Regions from separate parts of the Homo sapiens genome. Here regions 1, 2, 4 and 5 are each linked to region 3. The links come from fine-mapping of genetic effects on gene expression. A gene starts in region 3. Each other region holds a variant in brackets. All regions are shown on one strand. Distances are from middle to middle.

The links.
Region 1: its variant is fine-mapped to the expression of RTN1 in whole blood (TOPMed, PIP above 0.99).
Region 2: its variant is fine-mapped to the expression of RTN1 in whole blood (TOPMed, PIP above 0.99). The same link has a PIP of 0.9 or more in blood mononuclear cells.
Region 4: its variant is fine-mapped to the expression of RTN1 in tibial artery (GTEx, PIP above 0.99). The same link has a PIP of 0.9 or more in aorta and coronary artery.
Region 5: its variant is fine-mapped to the expression of RTN1 in whole blood (INTERVAL, PIP 0.99).

What each region holds. Positions count from the first base shown.
Region 1 is chr14:59,902,302-59,907,408 of GRCh38, reverse strand. No RefSeq gene overlaps it. Among named protein-coding and RNA genes, the nearest start is that of LRRC9, 15 kb to the left of the region's middle. The variant G/TG (reference allele first, on the strand shown) is at 2,672.
Region 2 is chr14:59,847,559-59,852,665 of GRCh38, reverse strand. All of the region lies in intron 1 of RTN1 (reticulon 1), which reads left to right. Among named protein-coding and RNA genes, the nearest start is that of RTN1, 21 kb to the left of the region's middle. The variant A/G (reference allele first, on the strand shown) is at 2,696.
Region 3 is chr14:59,868,377-59,873,483 of GRCh38, reverse strand. It overlaps RTN1 (reticulon 1), which reads left to right and starts at 2,708. Exons shown (of 9, transcript NM_021136.3): 1 at 2,708-3,094. The coding sequence starts at 2,854. RefSeq lists a silencer at 2,700-2,799.
Region 4 is chr14:59,678,173-59,683,279 of GRCh38, reverse strand. All of the region lies in intron 3 of RTN1 (reticulon 1), which reads left to right. Among named protein-coding and RNA genes, the nearest start is that of MIR5586, 34 kb to the right of the region's middle. The variant T/C (reference allele first, on the strand shown) is at 3,106.
Region 5 is chr14:59,773,386-59,778,492 of GRCh38, reverse strand. The region is part of intron 1 of RTN1 (reticulon 1); the gene reads left to right. Among named protein-coding and RNA genes, the nearest start is that of RTN1, 95 kb to the left of the region's middle. The variant A/G (reference allele first, on the strand shown) is at 1,948.

The sequences.
Region 1 (5,107 bases), 34 kb before region 3:
AGGTTTGAGATTCTAATTGGAATGCAAGTGGAGATGGTAAGTAGGAAGTTGAACTTAGGAGTCTGGAGTTCATGGGAGAGTTCCAGGCTGGAAATATATATTTAGGGTCATTAATATAAAGATTAATAAGACTGAACGAAATTGCCAAAAGAATTAGTGTGGGTAGAAAATAGAAGAGGTTGAAGACTGAACTCTGGGGAACTTGAATATTTAAAGGTCAGAGAGATGATAAGGAACCATCGAAGACTGAGTCCTAGCCAGAAAGGTGAGATAAAATCCAGGAAAGGGTGGTGTTCTAGAAGCCAAATGAAGAAAATAGAGTGATAATAGGTCAAGGAAGATGAGGACTAAGAATTGAAGTTACTGATGCTGCTGAAAAGAACAGTTTCTATAGAGGGGATTCAAGAAGAATGGAAGAAGATGAATCGGAGACTGTGGGTATTATAGGCAGCTCTTTCAAGGAGATTTGCTCTAAAGGAGGAAGAGAAATGGGGCAGATGCTAGAGAGGAGTAGGGTCATGGGAGTATTTTTTAATATGGAAGAATAAGAAGATGCTTTTATGCTAATGGGAGTGATCCAATAGGGAACAAAAATTATTCATGATAGAGGGAGAATTGTTGGAGCAATGTCCTTGAGGAATTGATAGAAGATGGGTGTGCACAGGTCACAGGGTTAGCTTTATCTCAGAGCTTGGGCAGGAGAGAGGGCAGTCAATGGGCACAGAAGCAGATAGGTAGATATATGTGGTGGTGGTGGTGGTGTGTAGAAGCCCTCTTGTGGCCTCAGTTTTCTCAGTGAAGTAGAAAGCAAGGTCATCTGAGAGTAAGAATATGAAGGGAGGTGGAGGTTTCATGACAGAAGAAAAAGTATAATTTAATGGTCCAGGAAAATGGGAGAGTGAATGGACTAGGTAAATAGAATATGATTGCCTGGCTGCATTACTCTCTAGTGAGTTTAACGATCAGGAATGTAAGGTGAGATCAGTCAGTATGGTTATGATTTTTCTCCATCCACCTTTAGCTGTGTGTATGCCTAGTACAGAGGACTGGGAGAGTTAGATTTAACCAAGGATGGGATTTAACCAAATGTATGCAGCAAAGTAAAAAAGGGGGAGAAGTATTGAGGATGTATCCATGTGGAGGTCAATAATGGCCTTGGAATTTAAGCTGGAAAGGAATGTGACTTCATGCGGAAAGTAAGAGAGTAACCTGGGTTGATCAGTGGATGATACATAACCAGTGGAGACAGTGTTTTAGTCTGTTTAGTGTTGCTGTAAAACAATACCTGAGGCTGGGTAATTTATAAAGAAAAGAAGTTTATTTGGCTCATGGTTCTGCAGGCTGTGTGAGAAGCATGGTGTCTGCATCTACTCTTGGTGAGGGCCTCAGGCTGCTTATGGTGTAAAGCACAGGGGAGCTGGCATGTGCAGAGACCATGTGGTGAGAGAGAAGCAAGAAGGAGCGTGGGGGTTCTAGGCTCTTTTTTAACAACCAGCTCTCATGGGAACTAATAGAGAACTCACTTACCTTCCCCATGCAGGGAAGGCATTAATCTATTCATGAAAGATCTACCCCATGACCCAAACACTTCACATTAGGCCCCACCTCCAACACTGAGGATCAAATTTTGACATGAGATTAGGAGGAGACAAACTATAGGAGGCACACAAGAAAACCCAAATTCTGAGCATTTCATAGGTCAAAGGCCTAATTACCTCTTACTTCCTCATCTCCCACATCCCACTTTGCAGAAATTCCTTCATTCACACCAAACTCATCATTTTCAGAGCATTCCAAGGCTTTTCACCACACTATCCTTTCATATCCACTAGTCCCTAGGCCTCAATGCTTTTCTTTTTCCCTTTCCACCAGCCTATCTCTATAACTAGTTTTCAACTGTCTCCTCTTTTTCAAAACTTTCTCTCAATATATCCCAGCAGGGTGAGCCTTTTTCCCTTCCCAACTTGTCCACTCAGATCTTGACTCATGCTTCCATAGAGCCCATAGGGTCAGTCTCTTGAACCAGGCTGTGAGCTCTTTAATGAGTCAGGGCCACGTGTTATTCATACTTGCATTTCGGTGGCATTTAGCAAAATAGAAACCTAAAAGTAATGCCTTAATGAATTAGTAAGTGAATGGATACTATCAGGGTGCATTATCATCAGCTCAGTTTAGACCAACATTTTGCAAACCTGTCTGATTATTTAATCACTTGTAACTTGTAGAAATTTGTTTAAGTTTCTAAGAATATAACCCAGAGAATATCATTTAGTAGATTTACAGAGAGGTTTATAAGCTTCTGTTTTAAAAATTCCCCAGATGCGTTTAGTAATCAGTCCTATTTGAAATATCCTGGCTAATTATCAACCTTTAACTAGAAGCTGATTCAATGAAGAAGAAATTAGCCTCTTTATCCTTTAACTTTACTTAGAAAAATACAAGTATGCTTGATAAAAATGTTCATTTTCCCACTGTTCTTTTTTCCCCCGAAGCTGGTAAATGACTTTACAGTTAAGATGTCCTAATTGACAATGTGTAACTTCTAGGAGTCCTCTTATGGCACAATTTCCAGCTGTGTGACAAATCTGTGAATGAGGGGTGTGTGTGTGTGTGAGAGAGAGAGGGAGAGACAGAGAGAGAGAGAGAATTTATTTATTAATCTAGATTTTTT[G/TG]AAGTTAAGTGAAGAAAACCCAATTCAAAAAAGCTTACATTTTTAAAAAATCCATTGGCTTTCATAAGCAACAGGTTAATTTCCAGGGGTAGGATTGGCTTTGGACAAAACTGTAGATCTAGGATTTATTCAAGTGAAATATTGGGACTCAGAAGGTTTCCATCATTCTGATTTATTTTTTGGCTTTATTTTTGGAAAGGAACATCTGCAGGTAGTTCCAGGATTACATTCTGCCTTTTTTTAAACCCTAAAGGAAAGAGGATGCCCTTTTCCCAGTAGTTTCAAAACAAGTTCTAGGATTCAGGCTGATTGGTCTAACGTGGGTCAGATACTCAATAGAATGCTCTGATTGGCTTGGGCTGAGGGGTGGGGTCAGTGCCATCAGACTCCTATGTACTATAAGAGGAAGAGGGTGAATTTCATGAAGGAGAACTAAGGTGTTCTCACCAGAAATGTGGAGTGCTACGAAGGCAAAAACAACAGATGTCCACTGTAGCCAACCTTATTTAAATCACAATGTGTAGGGAGGGTATTACCCCACAGACCCCTAAACCAGTACTGCTTTGACTTTGTAGAGATTTATCCTCATCCTTTTTCTATCTGTAGCATTTTACTATAAAATATTTGAGAAATTAACAGAGTGAATGTGAGACTTCATTGGCCCACATTTCTTGACTTGGAGAAGCTAATCTACTATAAGACTAAAAATACTGGGGATTTTCTTCTGTTTTCATCTGTTTGTGCCCCGAACTAGTAGTGGGAGGGAGCAATTTTGCCTGAGTGAATCTCCTGCACAAACCCGGACTTTCTCTCCTGTGGGTTGTTGCAAGTTCTAGTGGGAGTAGAGAATGTTAGTGAGCCCTTTTCTCTACAGATTTACAGTCATATTTTCCCAATGGCTTTTTCAGTAATAAAGCTGATTTTTAAAAATCTCAATTTATCTGCCTCATGTCTTATTCCCAGTTGCTTTCAAGCTTGGAGGGAAAAAAGGAGGGGAGGGGGTTATTATTTGCTTTCTAAAGCCTGACTCTGTACTTGAGTTAACTGTATTTTTATATAATCCAAATGTTGAAACTTGAAATGCATATTGACTTTCCAAAAACCAGAATATTCCATTAGTCAAAATAAAGAATTCCCTTTCCATTTGGAAAAAGTAAAAGTTTGCAATACTTTACTGCACACCCATTTCTTAGTCATATGTATATAAAAATGACAGTATCTGTAGAAGTTAGAGCCAGCCTACATAGAAACAGTTGCTTTACAAACCATAGCTCATTTGTATATGTGTGCACTTGACAAGAGGTCTTGGGAAAGAGGTGCATCACTGTTATTAAATATAGAGAGCTTTGAAACAATTATTAGTGTGGTCAGCCCCATTTTGCTAGCTATGCCAGAATGATCATTTTGCTAGCTATGCCAGAATGAGCCAACCTGCAAATTCTGCCATTGAGAAATAGAATTTAATTGTGCAAATACAAGAGGAACTTAGCCAAACAGACTACTAAGTTCCAAATAACTTTAGATAACCTTCTTAAATCAGACCGATGACATCAAAAATAATGCCATTAATGCCCTTGAAAACAATAGTAAATACAATAAAAGCTTATTTTATATATGTATAATAGAATGTATCATATGTATTTGCATTTGTATATGTGTATTTATATATACATATAAGAATTTTACTTAATATAGTGGGTTTTGTATTAGTTATCATAGTTTTAAAATTGTGTTTTGGAGACATTGTACATTAATTTCATTTTTGTCTTAAAACAGAATTACAGTTAAAATCATCCAAGATACACTTTCTTTGGAAGATATATTAACAATCTTCTATTCTTGTTTAAAAAATACCTGCTGGCATGACATTCACCCCATGCCTGACCTAAATCTGAAATGCTATAGTGTCTGCCTTCTTTGTCCTTTTTGATCTTCAGTGAAGACAACTACTGACTTGATATCTATATTAAAAAGCTTATATTCTAGATCAATGTTCAATAGAAATAAAATGTGAACTATTACATGTAATTCTAGATGTTTTATTAGCCACAATAAAAGTAAAGATAGATGAGATTAATTTTAACAAATATTTTGACCCAACATAAGACAATATTATTTCAACACATAATAAATGTAAAAAGCTATTAATTAGCTATTTTTGTCTTTTTTCATACTAAGCCCTCAAAATACAGTGTATATTTTATACTTACAACACACCTAAATTCAGTCTAGCCACATTTGAAGTGCTAAAGACACATGTGAATAGTGGCTACCATATTCAAGTATGCAGTTCTAGGTGATTGTTTTTAATTTTTTCATTTAGAATTTAAATTAATATTTGGTTTTAATTTGGTGACAGAAAATCAGAAATAATCATGACTTTATAAAGATAGAAGTTTATTTATATCTTATACAAAGTTGGGAGGTAGTGGTCTG
Region 2 (5,107 bases), 21 kb after region 3:
TACCAGTAGACAGTAGCTAATCTCAGCCTCTGAGAAGGGCTTAATGATGGGTCTATGTGAATCTTCATTGCCCAGATAAGTGATGCATCATCATTTGTGTATTTACTGAGTCTGTGTACACTTCAGTCGCTGCCAACGTTTTTGGAACCAAATGGTATTTTAAGTAGATTAGGCAACAGTCTTTTACCATTATTATTAGGAAATGCTTGGGGGTGGGACTAGGAGATGATGTTAATTCTCCCTCTAAAAATCTCCATCAGTCATCTAATGCCACCCTAAATAAATATGTATTCTTCAATGTGGAAAATCAGTTTTTTTCTCAATTTTATGTAAAGTGTGCATATGATATTTTAAAAAGTCTGCTCTACTTTTATTTATATATGAACATACCATCAAAGTAAAATCAGAGTGCTTCTCATGCAAATGCAGCTTCAAAATAAGTCAACTGACTTCTCTAACTAGATTGTAGCCCCTATGTGCCATTATACGTAGAAAATTTGGAGTGGCCACTACTTACTATACTATCAATTTGTTTAGCAAACCTTTTATTATAGATAATACAAGAGTAAATTGCAGCCCATTATGTTTGAATTACCAGAATTGAACTTCTGTGAGTTTATTTTAAATTGAATCCGTGGTGTTAGAGAACTGTTCCTATTTTACCAAAAGTCTGGAAAGAGCAAATGCCTAATACTGCTTTCTAGAAATTGTACAGTATTTTAAAACCGAGCAGTTCTGTTTACAGTTTGGATGTTTGCATATCAATTCTCAGAAATAAGAATTGGTTTATTCTTTTTTTTTTTTTTTTTTGAGACTGTGTCTTGCTCTGTTGCCAGGCTGGAGTTCAGTGGCACAATCTTGGCTCACTGCAACCTCCACCTCCCAGGTTCAAGCGATTCCCTTGCCTCAGCCTCCCGAATAGCTGGGACTACAGGCGCTTGCCACCACACCCAGCTAATTTTTTGTATTTAGTAAAGACAGGGTTTCACCATGTTGGTGAGGATGGTCTCGATCTTTTGACCTTGTGATCTGTCCGCCTTGGCCTCCCAAAGTGCTGGGATTACAGGCGTGAGCCACCACGCCTGGCCAAATTGGTTTATTCTTATGAATAACATTAAGGAACAAAAAAAAATCATATTTTTAAGAAGAGAAGTAATATACTTTCTAGAGAAATAAGCCCCAGACATCCCCTGTTTTGAAAGTGAATGTGCTGTTAAGGCTCTTTGTGTTGCTTTTATTTTTTAAGTATAGTAATCTGCTCTGTGCTTATTTAACCCCTATGTGGTATAATAACTCCCAGGAGCATTGGTTTCTAAAAGGAGTCTTTAACAATCTGTTAAAATGAAATTCTCTGCCATTCTGCCAGACAGAAGACATCAAGGTCAACCTTTAAGTGTATTATTTAACACATAATGATTGTGTTTCCTAACAATAATGATTATGTTTCCACTGTGATCATTTGTGTGAAAATGTCACACAACGTTTATTGAAAGATATTGAATGATATGCTCCATGTATTATCACGTCAATATGAATCTTTGGAAGCATTATTTTCTGTTTAGAAAAGGGAAAGTTGGTACATAGGTTGATCACAACAGCCTGGAGTTTTTTTGTTTTTGTTTTTTCTATGAATGACCCTGCACTGCAGGGGGAAAACAATCAGTAGACAACTGTATATAAATAAAACTGAAAATTCAGTCAACTTTCTTAGTGAAATGGAAATGCTCAACTCCACAGCCTTGTTTTAAAATTGTAAAAACAGTGATAAAAGAAACTTTTGCAAGAGAAAAAAACCTACCCATGATCCCACCCCCTTTGCACATTCTTAGTGCCCATGTGATGGTTTGAGGATTCAGTGAGCTTCTTTGAAGTGCTTGGAACAGTGTTTGAGACATAGTAAGGACTGTATAAATATTTGCTATTTTTATTGTATTCTCTATCAATTATTGTTATTTGCATAATAACCACTAACCTCCTTCAAGTGGTTTAGAATGGATGGAACACTGACGTCATTTATTGAGTGACCCCCATTTTTACATTTGTAGAATCTGAGCAAGGCCAAAGCCATATCTCTGACACCTGAGTCTCATGCTCTCTTTATTATACTCCCTGGCTTTCTGTCTTCGAAATGTATATGGTCCTCAATTTAAAATAGCTTAAGATTTTTAACTTTACAATGGTGCAAAAGCAATATGCATTCAGTAGAACCTGTACTTTGTGTACCCATACAACCATTCTGTCTTTCACTTTCAGCACAGTACTCAATAAATTACATGAGGTCTTCCACACTTTATTATAAAATAGGCTTTGTGTTAGATTATTTTTCCTAACTGCAGACTAATGTAAATGTTCTGAGCATATTTCAGATAGATGAGGCTAAGCTATAATGTTTGAGATACATTGTGTTTTCAACATATGATATTTTTAATTTATGACTGGTTTATGAGGATGTAACCCCATTATAAGTTGAGGAGCACCTGTATAACATAAGGGAAAATAGAAGTGTCCTACAAGACAACAAAGCCAGGACATGGAATTCAGCTTTACTTTGCAAAGAGGAAGAAAGTAATGAGTGTCAACTGAAGAGACAGGAGAAGAGACACCAGAAGCAGAAGTGAGGGTGAAGAGAGGAGCAATGGGGCTGGGAAGAGGTGGCGGTGAAAGGAGAGGCTTGGCCCCTGGAATGGACACAAAT[A/G]GACAAAAAGGAAGAGGAAGTGGAGGAATTCAGAAAACAGGAAAGAGAGTTAACAGAGAAGTACACAGAGAGGGGGAAGCCCTTTGAGGAAGCAAAAGTAAAAAAAGGAATGGATTTATGAAGAAGAGGAAAAGAGAAGTAGTTAAGAAGACTTGGCTAAATTCTAGAACCTGGAGTAAGTGAGAGTGGGAGTTCTTGGCTTTACTTCCCTTAGAAATTGTAATTCACATGTTTATGATTGCTTAGATCCTTAAACCAGGAGAAACTTCTATAAGTGGGGTGACTCCAGCAGGCCACTGGGGCTCAGGAGTAGGAGCCATTCTTGGGGTTCTGTACAGGGCCACCCAAAGCTTTCTCACCCCCAGCTGAATGAAATCAATCAGTGGGCTGAGTCAGGCCTGTGGGCTGAAATGTTCCTTCCTCAGTATGGGGATTTTCCAAAAGACTCATATTAACTTTATCTAAATGGAGAAGAATTTAGCTGAGGGTTTTCCCTCAGATATAGGGGTGTATTTATATACTTTTTCTCTTATGCATGACTAGCCTGGAGATTTGCAAATGCAGTGTTTAGATAGCAATATCAGGGAGTTAATTGGTTTTTCTTTTACCATGCTCAAATATGAAAATGTACTCTATACTTTGGGGAACAGGGAGTAGTTAAGGAAAAGAGAGGAAATAGATAAAAGAGAAAGAAGTTGACATGTATTTAGCACCTAGTGCTAGGCAGGCAGGTACTGTGATAAACACTTTATATACCTTCTTAGATTAGCTTTATGATCTAATGGCCTATTGAATATATAGCAGGGTATTGAACTATGATTTGGTTAATCTAAGTAGGGGTGACAACTAATTTGCATAATTCTATTGTTTCCAACCAAGGCCATAAACTACATATAGAAAAGGAGTCTTCCAGCAACTTCCTGCTAAGTTGATGAGGGGGATGAGATATTGGGGTTCAAGTTATAGCTGGTAACAAATGTGCATTTTCAGGAAAGTAAACCACATATTCTTCCCGGGGGGGTGGGGACTATTGAAATAGATAGCTAAGGATTTGGAGTCCTTCCTATCCTTTCATCAGTGACGATTTGTGTACATGGACTTCGTACTGTATCAAGTGAATTAATGTTTGATTTCCTTGTCTAGGCAGAAATTCCCTTGAGGTAGAGGTTGTGTCTCCAATAGTCTCTATAATTCCTTGCAGACAGCCAAGCATATAAGCACCAGAGTTTTATAATTTAGTGGTGTATTTTTTTCTTTGGTTACATAAAATAGTCTTAATACCATATTGGGATCATAGCACATTTTCAAAAACTTTCAAAGTTCACAGAATCAATGACTATTCAAAGCCTTTAGAAGCAGGATTTGGATCTTTTATGTATGACTCATATGGCCAATCTTAAATCAATTACAGTGTAAATTCTTGCTCCTATTTATATGAGTTATAAGAATAATCAGCAAAAACCTTCATATGTTATATCACTTTGAATTTCTTTTAAAACTCTAGCATGCTAACTTAAAAAATAAAACAATTCTTGACAGTTATGATTAAAACTATCTGATGATAAAGGAATTCTGTTAACATTTTAAAAATTAATTGGATGAATGTCCTTGATATAGCATTCAATTATCTTGAGAATTTATATAATAAAATGCAGTAGTTTGTGCTGAGATTAATTTGACACAATTGCCATTAACAACCCTTCCTTCTTAGCACCTAGCAGTTCACCTGCATGCTCTGCCCTCAAAAAGGGGATGCTACATTCAGGTGGTGACCATTACAAGTTAGATCCTACTTTTCTGTAGATAAAAGGCATAATAATGGTGAATTGATGTTTCATTAGTTTGTGGAGAGGAAGACTTTATGGTCTCTTCAACTCTAGGCCTTCAAAATCTGAGCCATTACTCAGATGAAAGATGAAAGTGGTTGCTAAGATGAAAGAGGCTCTAATGAAGTGGGGCTTAGAAGCAGGTTTGGGCCTGGTGAGAAAAATTATTTCAGGTCTCCAGCAGAGTGGCCTGGCTAAAAGTCTTCACGTGGGATTTGTAAACAAATTCGGGCCCTGAGCCCACTTCCTGACTGCTGGGCTGGGCAATCTGTGCCAGCTTCCTCTGCAGTCTCTTCATATGCAGGAAAGGCTGTGGGTTCAGGTGTTAGAGCTATTCCAAAAAGCATGTAGCATGAAGCAGGGCGTTCTCCATCACTGGAAGGGTCCAAGCAGAGACTTCATGATCACTTACCAGGGAGGTTTAGAAGGAGGCATATTTTTTAAGTGGGAAGTCGAACTTGATCACTTCAAATGTTCTTTGTATTCCTTTTGTCAGGATTCCATGATTTTATGATAGAAAGCAGATAATTGTTTTGCACCAAGTCCTGTGAATGACTAGAAAATGACACACATTTTAAATATTGGG
Region 3 (5,107 bases):
CAGTTGAGGAACCTGGGTTGTAGAGATGTTAGGTAACTTTAATATTGAGGCTGGAAAGAATTTCATCTTGGTTAAAGCTTGTTACTTGTGGCGCTCTTCCTGCATGTCCCCACACCGTGTTTCCCCATGATATATGGTTTGGACTAAGTTAAGAAGCTAGTGCTAAATAAATGCTCCTCATTTCTTCTTTTCAAATGATGAACAAAACTTCTTTTCCAAAAAACAAAAGCTGAAAACAAAACGTGACAGTTCTTTTGTCTCAACTCTTCTTGCTAAGAACCTTTTAAAAGTGACAATCCTATTTTCTCTGTGTCTGAAAAGCATTTTAGAGTAATTCGTAACTTAGAGCAACTATGTAAGCCCCAGAATCCCATTGCCGACTGTGTGTTTTGCCCATAAATCTTCAAATTAGTCAAGCTTTGTCAGTTCAGAGCGGTGCAAAATAAATAATATTAATAAACATGAATCATTTCAAGTCATAGCATAAACCTGAAAATTTCTTCCCCCAAATAGATAATTTTTATACATCCAAAGGTGGAGTCTAATAAGGAAAGTTAGTAATGAAAATTGCTAACACTGAAATCTTGTGCTCATCTCTTTTCAGCAGTGTAAAATAGAATACTTTATCAAAATGGAACTGTCAATAATGTTCAATTTCCTTTAACAACTACACTCTAAATAGATTTAACTGGCTATTTCCTTCACACATTCTCAATGAGAGTATTGATTAGTATGAAAGAAATTGACAAATAATTAGAATCATATCCCCAAACTTCCTATCTATTAATCATAAGGAAACACAGAGGCTTGCTTAGGTCTCCCAGTTTTTTAATGATGACTTTCATTCATGTTTCTCAGAGAAACAAAAGAATATACTTCATATTATTTTGTATGTAACTCCTTTGCATAGCAATTCTCAAATATTAGTATTCATCAATAACCACTTTAAGGTTATATCATTAGAATTGTCTATGTTCTTGTCTTGTTATCAGTAATAAAACCATGAGAAATTCCCATCTAGTATTTCTGATGCTTTAGGGAATACTAAGTAATAGATTTGAAAAAACTTACAAGTGCCCTCTAATTACAAGACAGGATTAAGCTCCATGGAAATACAGCAGTGGAATAAGCTTTTCAACTTAACGGTTTTTTAAATACACTCTTGTTTTCCCATGGAAAGATGTTTAAAAATCATTATGATTCATGATAACCAATTATTTTGTTGTTTTTGGATGAGATTATTTTTATAGATTTATTGAGTTATAACTGACAACACATTAAATTGTTCATATTTACAGTAAACAATAAGTTTTGACATATGTTTGCACCTGTGAAGCTATAACCACAATCTAGATAGTGAATATTTCCATCATGAGACATAATTTTGAGTATGTCAAAAATGTAAAATTTTGGTGACCATCAGATTTCCAGGGATATCTGGCTTCAGGAGGCCATATTTATTGTTTAGTGAATGATTTTTCTCTAATTTATTGTCATCTTTTGAACATTAGTGCACTAGCAGAACAAAAGATTAGGCAGACTCTGGGCTTTTTCATTTTAGCATTATTGAGGAGCACCTGAATGGTCCTGAAGTTGGCCTTTGAATATACCAATGGACAGGTATGAAATCCTCAAGATGCGCATGGTGGCCAAGAGTCCCACAGTCTCACAGTGTGTGCGGTACCGTCTGCGCCCACCTTTCCTAGAGAAGAAACAGCAGAAAAACCTATTCCTTCACCCTGTGTGTTGTGGTGAATCTTAGTTTTTAAAGGCACATTATTTTATTATATAAACAACTTGGGAACCAATAAAACACAAGACATTTGAAAAGATGGGTCTTCGTATGGGCACAACATATGATAAGGCAAGTCACTTTCCTCCTCTGAGTTTGGGTTTATTTGCTGACTATCTTCCATTTTATCACAGTGAACTGTAAAGAAAAAGATGCAAGCTTCATGGAATGTCCAAATTCTGAAATACAACGGACTGCACAGACAGCTTATGATTAGGATGGCCTTGGCTCAGTGTTTCTGAAAGCAAATGTACAGCTTTTGTCCTTGCCTATTGACACCCTGTTTGCCCTCAGGGCTGGTCAGGGTGAGATCTGTTAAGCTTTTTTTGGAGGCTGTCCTGATAACTCATTTCTTTACTCCACTATTTTCAGGCCCATTCTGGAAACGCAGGATTTAACCGCGGGGTTGCAGCTTCCCTGGTCTCCATCTGCCATCAGAACCCATCTCCACCCCTTCCCCGTTCAGACCTGTGTCCCCTCCACAACTCATACTGGTCACTCTCAGAACTGTGGCCCTGAGTTCTCTAGCTTTCCCTCTTTGCCTCGGGACCCAGGACACCAGTCGGGGCTTAACTTTCTCAGTTGGGAAGGCGACGCTGCTGGTGGCTGCTGCTACTTGCTGGTTCTTCCTTTTTTTTCCTCCCCAAACGAGAGGAAGATTCGAGTGGATTTGGCACATCCCCTAACCGGGGCCTGCCATTTGCAGGTTGGGGGCTGACGTGCCCAGGAGGACCCGGACCAAGCAGGCCATTTTCACCTGCGTAATAACAGGATTGGGAATAGCGAAGCAGCGGCGGCAGCAGCGAGTGGAGTAGGAGGAGGAGCGCAGGCAGCGGCCGCGGCGGGGCCGGAGGAAGAGGAGGGGGGAGAAGGAGGAGCTGAAGCGGGAAGAGCGGCAGGCAGCGGCTCGGCGGAGTTGCAGCAGAGGCGGCGGCGACGCTGAGACACCGCAGCTTCCCTGAGCGCCGAGTCCCTCCGGGGACAGCAGCAGGGAGCGCCCGCGCAGCCACCGAGCCTCTGCCCAGCCAAGCCGCCGTCGCCGCGCCGGGGGACCGCCAGCCATGGCCGCGCCGGGGGATCCGCAGGACGAGCTGCTGCCGCTGGCCGGCCCCGGGTCCCAGTGGCTCAGGCACCGGGGGGAGGGGGAGAACGAAGCGGTGACGCCGAAAGGGGCCACGCCGGCGCCGCAGGCTGGGGAGCCCAGCCCGGGGTTGGGCGCCAGGGCCCGGGAAGCGGCGTCGCGGGAAGCCGGCTCGGGCCCCGCCCGGCAGTCGCCCGTTGCCATGGAAACTGCATCCACAGGTAAGGCGGGCGCCGCTGCCCCTCAAATGGCGTCGGGGACCAGGGCCCCCCAGTCAGTCCCCTTCTGCGCGGCTCTCCTGGGCACCTGCCTCGCGCTTTCTGCCTTGAGCGCCGACCCCACCCCCGCGTCGCCACGGGCGACTGGGAATATTCGCGGGCTGGTAGAAAACAACAATTTTATTTTTCCCAAAGGCTCAGAAAAAGTCAAGATGCTTTTGATCCTTTTATTTCATTATCATGATTATTTCCGCTTTAAAAATTGTTCTCATAGGCAAACAGCAGCATTCTGGCTGCTGGCGAGTCTGGGTACAAGTTTCTCCCTCCTGCCAGGAGGCTCCGAGCTGTAGGGCCCGTTTGACAGGTTGTGGGGATTTTGGGGGGCGTGTTTGCGCGCAGTGTGCGCGCCGGCTACAGGAGATGCTGACAACCGAGCGGCGGGCAGGCCCGCGGCCCCTGGACCCGGCTCTGTCCAGGGCAGAGATGTGGCTGTAACTGCCCCTTACCCTTGCCCTCCACGAATCGCCACCACACCTTACTCCCCCCACATCCCTCCGCCTTTTCTCCCGCAGAAAACAAATCCCAGGGAGTTTGTCCCTAATTCGGGAGGCACAGCTTTGCAAGAGGGTTGGGTGCTGTGGCTGCCCCCGCCCAAAACCTGTATTTCGCCGCTGCCCGGATGGCCCCACCTTGCAGGGAGCATTGAAACTTCAAGTCCTAAGTGCGGCGGGCCTGGCTGTGGGTTGGAGGGCTTGGGTGGTGGTGAGTGGACGTGGTACAGTTTACCAGCAGTCTAAGCGCCCCCCCCCCCCCACCCCGGAAATTGCCCTGGGTTTGGCCATTCTTCGCCTGACGCCCTATTCAAAGTCTGAGCGCGCCAGTGTCCAGCGGGAGCCCAGGCCCCTGGCGCATCCTGGTCAAAGGATCCAGGAAGCGCGCTTTGAGGCTGCCGGCCTGGTTAACGCTGTTTCCAGGGAGAGGAAAGGGGATGCTGTGTGGTGCTCTTTCCTGAGAAAGCTTTGCTATGGTGGAGTGGGAGTTGTGTAGTTTTGGCAATGTAGAGCTAGAAGGCCTGGGGTGGGGGGTGCTCCCAGAGGAGGGGAAGGGGAGTGGGACTGGTGTGTGTGCTCTTGGTGGTTGATTTAAAGAAACCCCTTTTCGTAAGCTTCTCTTAAGGGTTATGTGGAATGTCTAAGGTAATCGTAATTAACTGCCCTGGTACAGAAGATCTGAGCTGGGGAAAAGAGGTTTGGAGAATGCGTTGAATAAAAATTGTCAATATCCTGAAAGGAAGAGAAAAAGTGGAGACCCTATATAAGAAAAAAGAAAAAGAAAGAAAGAAAAGTACTCAAAAGCCCCAACGCCAAACGCCAAAGGTTATATATTAATTATTATATCCCTAGGAGTGGGGGAGGATTTAAATCTAAGAATGGCTGCTCAGTCTCTCTTTCAACTTCTGCATCCAAGTGAAAACAAAACTCTTTATAATTGCAAAAGAAGATGGCAAATGATAATAGACAAAGGAAGGTAGTTTTTGTCTTTACCATTCTTTGTTGAGGATAGACTGCTCATAGTTCAGAATCTTTATCCACTGTAATCAAAGTAAATTGTTTCTTTATGAAACATTACCCACCTCCTATTAGTGCCACTAAGATTATGTGAACTAGAAAAAGGAAGCTAAGTGCCCCATGCTCAGTAACATATCCACAAAAGTTATTATATAGGAAATGCTTAGAATATATATTTGTGGGGTACAGTGTGATGTTTTGACATATGTCTGCATTGTCAAATGATTAGCTAACAAATCCATCATCTCATGTACTTTTTTTTTGTGGTAAAAGCGTTTAAAATTTACTCTTTTAGCAATTTCAAAATGTACAGTGCATTGTTACAGAAAGGTGGCTGTAGTAAATAACAATGCATTTTGCATTTTTAGTATTATTATTATAGAAATACCTTGCTTTATTGAATGTGTTTGGGGTTTTCTATCCTAGGCAACAAATATAGTAATAAAAT
Region 4 (5,107 bases), 190 kb after region 3:
TTGGAAATATTTAGATCAGAAAATAAGTCATTGTGTTAATACACAAAATTAATACTACCTTCATACAACTTTAAATGGATTAATTAACGTATTTTTCAGCTATATAAAAGCAAAGAGTTGATGCCAACTAGTGATTTCCAATAGAAAGAGAACATGAGGTTGAGTCTGGAATAAGCTTCAGTATAGGACCAAAATAATGCGTTAGTAAGGAGAAATGGGATTGGCAGATTCATACATCAACCATAGTGAATGTCACCAAATATCTTGTGTCAGTTGACTTTTAAATATTAACCGAGAACCAAAATGTCACTCCCCTAGGTACAAATCAAATTGCTTCTCCTTTCTTTTGCCTGCACTCTTAAATGCTGAATAACCTCATAAGTAAGATTTCTATTAGGCAAATTAGTGCATGCGTATTAGGAACCACAGTTTCTGGAGTGGAGTTCAGTGGGACTAACTATATTCCCTATGATTAGTCACTTTAATCATAGAATTATGAGGAAACTCATAAATTATCAAATCATATTCTCAAAGCCTTTTTTAGCAATGCTTAACCATGTGCTCTGTAAGTATACATTTGATTTTGTTCCCTAGAGACAATTGTTTCTGTTTTATGAAGTGTGAAACATTACTCATTGGCAATTATGAGTAACTTTTATACTTGTTAAGTTTTATTGTTGTGTTAATGTAAACAGAAACACTTGTGTTTGTTTCCATTTGTTCAATACACATTTATTAGGCATCTACTTTCGCCAGAAGCTGGGAGATACAAAGATGACCATGAGTCAGTTCCTGCCCTCTAGCAATTCAAAGGAGACATAGGTATAAACTTCAACAGCAGGAAAGGCAAGTGGAATCCTTCTGTGGGGGCAGAAGTAGTCTATCTACCCAGCAGCCAGCACAATGCATGGTATAACATTGGATGTGTAATAAATCTTGTTCAAATAAATAAAATAATCATGAGAAGATGTACCAGAAATAGTAATGCCATAAGGAAAGGAAGACAAATGGAGTTGAACCTTGAGCTAAGTCTTGAAATATGGAGCAGGTGAGAGAATTTCAGTTGAAGAAAAGAATGTGTGTAAAGTCCTCAAAGGGTGAAATAGCATGTGATTTCAGGGAATTAGGATAATTCCATTTTTCTGGAAAGTATGTCAGTGGCAAAGCCATGGGAGATGAAGATGGGGAGATGGGAAGGAGCCACATTAAAAAGCACATGCTGGATCTTCTAGCTTCTTAAAGGGTAGCACCATGATCAGATTTATGTTTAGAAAGATTTCTCCATGAGAAGGACAGATTGGTAACCAAAAGGATAGTTAGAAGATCACTAAAAAAATCTAGTGAGCAGTGACGAGGGTCTAAACTATAAACTAAAGCTGTAGCAGCTGAGAGGATGAATTTGGGAGAGATTTGGAAAGTAGAAATCAAGGTTTGAGGGTAGGGGAAGGGAACAGTGAGACAGAAACAGGAATCTGGGATGATCCTTGTGTTCTGATGTGATTAGCTGGATGAAAAAGAAGGCTGCTTAGTGGAACACGATCTGAGAAGGTGATACAGGGAAAATGAGTTCATAGATGCCTAGGAGACATTCAGGAAGATTTATTTAGTAAGCAGTTAGTGACCTGAACCTGGAACTCAAGAGCTAGGTCCAGGCTGGAGATTCAGAGCTGGTGGTACCCATGTCTGGTGGTAACTATGAGCATGAGTGAGAGAGCCCAGTGGAGAATACAGAGTATTAGTGACCCAGATTCATTATTTCCCAGTGCCTACTGCAGTGTGTGGTTTGGGGATGGAATTGATATGACACTCATCATTGATAATCATTATTGGAGCTAGAAAAAAGGGTTGAAAAAATAGTATGGAGAACATTTTGGCATTTTCAAATTACCATTTTTTAAGATTCAGAATGATTTTCTATTGAGAGACAGTTACTCATGGAATAAAACATATGAATCAAGAACCAAGTAAATTAAAAGCAAAGTAACTGACTTGTTTTTGTTAGAGGAAATATATGTTCATATGTCTAAATTAAGAATTGTTCATAGCAAATAATGCTTGGTAAGTTTTTGTTGGATTTGTACATGTGGAAATCTAAGATGTATTTAATAAATATGGAAATAATAAAATAGATTTGTAGTTTTATGAGCACTTAGATGAAAAGAGAAGCAGAGAAAAAAGAGAAAATGGGAAATAGAGATAGACACACACATACTATTAATATAGAAACTTATAAAAGACAAAATAACTGTAATCCATAATTCAACCACCACTGTCAAAATTTCAACATATATTCTATTATTATGTCTGTACATATTTTTGTATACTTGTTATGTTGGCTGTATAAATTCATATACTTCTTTTTTTAACTTGATATGATAAACATTTTCCCAAGTTATTAAAAACTCTTCATAAATATGGTTTTTCATGACAGCATAAAGATGCCTATCACTTTTCAGTTACTTAGTTACACATTCTCTATTGTTCAACATTTAGATTTTAGCTTTAAAAAACTTTAAATACCACTCCATTGAGTATCTTTGTTTATAAGGCTTTGTGTTCATTTCAAATTATTTTCTTGAGATAGATTTCTGGAAATAGAATTACCATACTAAAACATATGAACATTTTAAGGCTCCTATTGCCAAATTGTGTTTTAGAAAGATGATACAAATGTATACTTCCATCAGCTTTATGTGGCAATGCCTGGACACACTAAATAATACAGCATGCTATAAAGCCTTGTATTTGGGTTCATTGGGAAATTGGTAATTGGCACTAACCTTGTATTTTATTCAGTGAATTCACTGATTAGCTCAAATTAGTAAAGATAGACTTATTGTAAACAATGACAACTATCTCCTTTTTTATTTAACTTTTATGCAAAATAACTTTAAAATGGAATTCAAAACACACTTCCCTATATTTTGCATGGTTTCACTTGGAAATACTTCTCCAGAAGGAAAGAAATGCTTCTCTAACTGGTATGGAGGGAAAGAGGGATTGCTCTTTCCTTTTTAGTACTATTAAGCAACAATTGTCTATTTTGGAGGAGGTTTATGACTTCTTTCAAAAACAAAGTATCCCATTTTTTCCCCAGAGCAAAGC[T/C]CTTAGAAGGCAATAGCTAAGAGCTATGTTACTAACATGATTGTTCTAGGAGGAGCACTGCTCAGCTCCCATGGCAACAGGTACCATGGAAATAGACACACTTTGTCAGAGGTATTGTAAATGCTATTGGGTATGAGGGCAGTAGTTGCAGTGAAATTTCATTGTTGCTATGTTGTAGAGGTTGCACAACACACCAAGCCTTATTTAGATTCTGTTGATAAGTCTGACCTGGTTTTTAAGAAGTTCTATTTTTTTAAAAAAGAAAAACAAACCCCAACCCCCAACCTGTTAGACCTAAGATAAAATGAGAACAATTTGCAAGGTTCAAATTGTTCTGTATGGAAGCTCTGGAAAATTATATGCAAGTCTGTATGGAAGCTCTGGAAAATTATGATATTTCAGAGAACTGTGAACTTTGAAGTGTCTGTGGCAATAAGTGATAGGTTGAGTGTGAATAACTTAAATCCAGAAGTCATCCCCAGACTTCATTTGAGCTAAACAGTTCAGCTTCTTCTCATAGGTCAGGTCACTGTTAATTTTTGCAGTGACAATGATTAACAATGAAATTATTAAGAGTGATTACTAATATAACACCTGTTTTGTACTCTGCTGTTTTACTGTTCAACCCTTTTTAATAACCATTAAAAGGTACCTATGACTAGTACTATAAGCAGATTCATCCCACAGTTGGGGAAATTAAGGCATAGAGAAGAAATAAAGACCTCATGGTCTTAGCTGGAGAGAGGTAGAGTCTGGATTGAGAAAAGTTAGAGCTCCAGTCTCTAGCCTTATTTTACAAACATTGATACAATGGTAAAGATGAAACCTAAGTCAAAGGGTGTATGGGTTATCATTGGTGGCTCTGTTTGTTTAATAGATAACTCAATTTAGCAGAGAGGGCTGTACTATTGTTTCATTTCAGAGCACCTGTGCAACTTCTGATGCTTAAGAGGGAAATTGAGAATACTTCTCTAATTCATACCCAAGCCACCCTAACAATTACACATGATAATACTCAATACAAAATGTCAAGTTAGGGATTATCTTGGCCTTTTTCTAGTAGATTCCTACCTGTTCCCAGTCTTTTCCAGACACTGTCATCCCTCACAATCCAATCTGTCACTCTGCCAGGAGCCAAGAGGATTCAGATGCTATCCCTTGCTTTTTGAAATCACAGTTGAACTCAAGAACCCAACAGAGTTAGATACTAAGACCCTGCACCTGTATCTATGGTCCTTAAACTTATATGTGCATAAGAATTACCTGGATAGCCTGTTAAAAATGTACATTCTCAGCTTCCCATTCTGACTAAGTAAGCCTGGGGTGAGGCCCAGGAAGCTGCATTTTTAACCAACTCCCCCAGTGCTTCTGAAGCAGGTGGTCTGTGGTCACGCTTTGAGAAACCTGAAGATCAGCATGTCAGTCTGTTAAAGTCTCTTCCACACCAGTGAGCCTAAGGACAATGGGGACAGTGGAGGTTGAGGAAGGGGCAGTAGTGAGAAGGGAGGCCTGTACCTCTGTGCCTGGGAGCCCAGCAAGGAACCTTCAGCTCTTGAGGTCCCAACATGTGCTGTGGCCCACGCTGGACCTCAGTATGTGGGAAAAAGCAACCAGCTTTCAGAATTCACAAAGGATGAGGCACAAGGTAGAGAAACAGGGATGCTGCAATCTGCAATCTGAGTGCGCTGGCCCCTGAGTCAGTAAGAGTTGTCTGTAGATACCTAAATGTTTAAATCAATTTTCTTCTCTCAGACAGTGGAATCCAGAACATATATTAAAAAGAGACCACTTCCAGCCTGTAGGAAAAATGAAGTTTTGTAGCTCATTGATGGCTTCTTTCTTGCTGTTAGGAAGGCCAAGCCAGAGAAGCTAAAATGATTGAGCTAGGCCATTTTCGCATTAGCATTCAACCCTTAAATAAAACTTTGGAGAAAAGACCCCTTTTCACATTCCCCACGCACCCCTACCACCACTGCCTAAGCTTTGGCAGCCTTCCAAATCC
Region 5 (5,107 bases), 95 kb after region 3:
ATGCATGAATAGGTATGGTCTCAAGCTCTATCACTTACTGCGACTTGGACAAATCATTTAGCCCAGCAAATAGTGCTTCTTTATCTTAGAAAACAGAGTTTAAAATATCTATAGCACAGGACTTTGTGGGAATTAACAAAAGCCATTCATTAATTCAACACATAGCTTACAATATGCCATGATGAGAAAAAGCATACATGGTCCCTGCTGTCATGAAGCATACAATATAGTTAGAGAGAAATTAAAACAATCACAAAAATAAATATAAAATTACAACTGTGATTGAAAGCCATGTGGTGCCAAGAGAAGCCATGATAGAGGTAATGACCTGGTCAAAGAAGTCAAGGAAGCCTTCCTTCAGGAGGTGATGAGTGAGCAAAGATCTGGAGGATAAGACGGAGGTACTGAGGAAGGGGAAGGAAAGCATTTTTTTAAGCAGGGACAGCACATGCAAAAGCTCATTAGAAAACAGCACATTCAGGGAACTTAAAGCAACACAGTGTGCTTTGGATGCAGGGAACAAGAGTGAATGTGGTACAAAAAGAAGCTAAAGAGACACGTAGAGGCTGCATCATGCCACCCTGACTTGGCACAGGAGAGACACAGAGTAAATATTAGGGTGTTTTGTGTGTGTGTGTGTGTGTGTTTTGTTGTTTTGTTTTTTTTTTTTGTTGTTGTTGTTGTTGTTGTTGTTTTGTCTTGACTTGCTTCCGTTTTTGATTTCCAAAGACCTAGAAAGAAAAAGAGGGGAAAAGGTTATTATATTTTGCTGGAAATACAGTGTCAATCTCATGAAACATCCACACTTTCCCCAAGAAAGGAGGGACATCCCTTTGGTCCTAAGGAACTCCTGAAAAAAGGGGCAAAGGGGCTGGGATTCAGGGCCCAGCATTAAAACTTCCTTTAGCTGAACCAAAGAAACCATCATAAACTTCCATGTTACTCCAGAAAGAGATTGTTTGGAAGGAGTGCCACCAAGTCAATGGCCAAAGGGAAGAAGGGGCCAGCAGTAGGTACCACTCATGATCAGCACACACTTAAAAGGATACACTGCTAAAATGGTATGTGTGTAGCCTTGTTGCAGCTTTAGCAAATATAATCTGGTCTATTTCCAATTGATGAGTAACTATTATTGGGAGAAGAGGAAGTGTTGAGGGGTACAAAGTCTGTGGGTAAAGAAGAAAGACAAACAGTCAAACACAAAAGCAACCAGACTCCCAGGGATTTTAGAATATGTTTCTAAACCAAGAGAAGATGATGAATCATCATGCCTATGATCATGGTGTGCACCATTTGCTCTTCTCCAATAACACGGTATCGGACCAAAGACAGCACAAGGTAGAGTCTCTTACTCTTCTGCAGTACAGCCAGAATTTTATTACTGAGATTTCCATGCCTGAAGGACAACATTTGCTCATGCTGACATGTTCAGTCTTCCTAGGTGAGGGACATGTCACTCCGTAATGAACGCTTGCCTGTTGTAGCCTTTCAGTGATGGTAGGTGGATTATTTTTAGTTTAAGAGCTGTAACTCAATAAATAATTTAGAATATCTATGGGAGTTTCAGAGTACCAATTAATCTCACTCATGTCCCTCTGAGTTCTGAGCCAATCCAGTCAGATTGAAACCTACATTGTTGCTTTATTTCTGGTAAACTGAGTTGGAAAGCACAGCCTGGACTTGTGGTAAAATAGGTTTTTTACGCCTCCTCCTGAAATAAATTTTTCATCTGGTCCCCAGCAGAGCCTCCTACTGGATGAAGGAAAGGAGTGACATGAAGCTCCAAAGGAGCATCAGAGAGGGTAAGGGGAAGGCCCCACACAGCGGAGGAAGGCTAAACCTCTTCTGGTTGAGAACAAATGAGATAGAGAGAAGGGCTAAAAATCTCCTCACCAAACACTTTCAAGATGAACAAAGTTCCTATTTTTGAATGTCTTAGCCCATTTC[A/G]TGTTGCTATAATAGAATGCCACAGGTTGGGTAACCTATAAAGAGAAAAATTTATTTTCTATAGTTGTAGAGGCTGGGAAGTCCAAGGATGAGGCCTGCATTTGGTGAAGGCTTTACTGCATCATGGCATGGTGGAAGGCAGAAGGACAAGAGCATGAGAGAGCAAGAGAGCAAAATAGGGCCAAAGTTGCTCTTACAGCAAGCCCACTATCACAATAACTAACCCACTTCCACTATAACATTAATCCTTCATGAAGGCATGGCCCTCATGACCTAATCCACCTCTTACTAGGCCCCAGCTCCCAACATTGATGCATTGGGACTTCAGTTTCCAACACATGAACTTTGGGGGACACATTCAAGGCCCATAGCAATGGACCTTGTCAGGAAGAAGGAGAGAAGACAATGGCTCAGCAACATCATAATGTTGGCACAAGGTATTTATTCTCAAAGATACAATAGGCTTTTGACTACAGAGTAAAAAGTGATAGAAAATGACTAGGAAAGTGCTAGAAATGCCCTAAACTTTATTATAATATGACATTAATTGAATCATCTTTATTTCATTGTTAAATTATTAGATATTATTTATACGGATTGATCTCTGCTGCCCTTAATTTAAAACTTCTTATTTCTGGTTGTGAGAGGAACAGTTTAGACTTCAAATGGCTTCTCTTCTTTATTTCAGTTATTAGAGACAACTTTCTGCTGTATGAAAGAGTGATCTTTTTAACAAATCAGATGACCAGTCCACAATTGTTATTGCTTATCTGCAGAATGTATTAAAATGTACATGGAATAGAAGATGTACTTATAAAATACAGAGTGCAGAGTATTTTATTTTTGGTCTGGAGATGTATCATCTTGCTTTTCAGTTCAATTTCTGTTACTATGTGATCTTACTCTCACTATGCCTCAATTTTCTCATCTGTTAAATGGGAATAATTAATAGTACCTGCCTCATGGGGTTGTTGTAAGGATTGAGTGAGCTGATACTTGTAGAGGATTTAGACGGTGTATGACACAGGGTACGCAGTTTATAAGTATTAACTATCACCACCATTATGCAGTGAAGAAAGCTTCCAATAAAGAGGCATTGTGTTCAAAATACTGGGATAGGATTTGTCTAAGCTATAGTAATTCTAGCTCCTACAAAAAAAAAGGTCAAAAATGTATAATTCCTCAAAAAGAATAGAGGCTTATTTCTTACTCTCACATAAAGTCTAGAATTTGTGTTCCTAATTAGCAGGCAGCTGGCCTCAAAAGGTGATTCAGGGACCCAGGGTCCTTTCATGTTTGGGTTCTAGTACCATCTCTAATATGAGATTTTCAAGGTTTTATGGGACAGTGACATTCAGCCAGTAGACAGAAGATGAGAAACGTCTGAGATACTCCCCTCTTAACTCAGTCTAGAGATGGAACTTATCGCCTTTACAAGAGCAGTTTTCATGGCCCCATCTAAGAAGAGAGCTGGGAAATGTACTCCCTAGCTGGACAACTACATCCCGGTAATACCTTATAATGTGGCAGAGTGGCATGAATAGGTGGCTAGGAAGCCATCTCTGCCATAGATGTAAAGGAGGTTTCTGTCTGTTATTGCAACAGTTTTCCCCTGAAATGTTAATTCAGTCAAGCATTATAGAAGTGGTTACTTGGATGTTTTTGCCTCTTCACTTAATGAGAAAAAGACGGTACTTTAATCATCAAGAAATTGTTCAGAAGAGTGAGTTCTGATCATGTGGTCTCCTTGGGGAGATGTTGTGAGTTGGCTGTTGGCTGATTTTACCATACCACTCCTCAGTCTCAACTGTAGTAGTGGTGACTTATTGGGACTAGATTTATCCACACTGTTAATGGTTTATTTAGAAAGGAACATTAAGAATACACATATAAATATGAGATTCCAAATGAAAATTACTTACATTTCATTGGTTTCATGTGTTTTTATTTAAGGCTTTTAGGGAGGAGAAAGCAAATTAAAGAACTGGACTATTTTGAACTGATTTTGATCAGTGTGGAGTGAAATTGCCAAGTAGCTTTCAGACATATTTTTGGCCTGCATTATTTGCCTAATTACTTCAGCTCTCAATTTTGCCCGTGTTGACACAGCTAGAACAGCAGGCAACACAACTGAGACTGCAGAAGTTGAAAGAAACCAACCCTTCAGAGCCAAATTATAATAATCTATAGTGTTGTATAGATTATAAATCATTTTTACACTTTAATTCAGAGTCGAGTCCATGTTCTTACAAATGGAATGCAGAATGTTTTGGGGACAAAAACTCAGCATGTTAAACAGTCAGTTTAGTAAGAGATTCACATTCTTTGCCATAGAAAAATAAAGAGCTGTGCCATCATTAACTCAGCAGTTGCACTGTGTTTTAATTCTGCTACTTAAAGCATCTCTTTCATGTAAGTGGAACTGTCAGTCCACTACAGACACTCTTTACCATAATGTGGATACTTGCCCAAATTTGTAAATCTGGCATTCTATTTCACAAACGTGGATGCAGTTTTATCCTAATTTTTCAATAATGGATAAATAATAAACTCTAATCACATGAAAGAGAGAAAAGAAGGCATATATGAATGAAATGTCCAGATAATCTAAAATATTCCTTTTAGTCACTATGTTTCCCTTTCTGAAAGGGTCAAAAATGAAGAGGATGGGTTGAATATTCATTTCTTTTTCTGTCTCATGTCTTTTTCTTTCATCTTCTCTTGTTTAGGATAATTAATGAGATGATAGAAACCAGGGTAGAAGAAAGACAGTAAGCTTTAAAAAAGCCAAAATAAATCAGCTCTTGAATAATTGAAAAGAGGCAGTGTATCCCATACACTTTTAACATCATGCTCTTTCCCCCATTAAATCTCAGATATAGAGTTATGAGTTGGTAACTCAGGTGGGGAAACTGTCTTTAGGAGATTCTTAACTTGATGGAAAGACTGCATCTGATTCTCAATTATGGAAAATTGAGCTTTCAGAAAATACTTAAAGGCTTAATGGAAATTAGAATATTTGTCATCTGTAAATAAATATTGCTGTGGTTAAAAATAAGTTCTGTCTTTTTTGTGCTGATTTATTTATCAGAAACTAACTTTTTAAAGTCATCAGAAGATATGTAATAGACATATAATACTTCTTCATTTATTCTTGGAA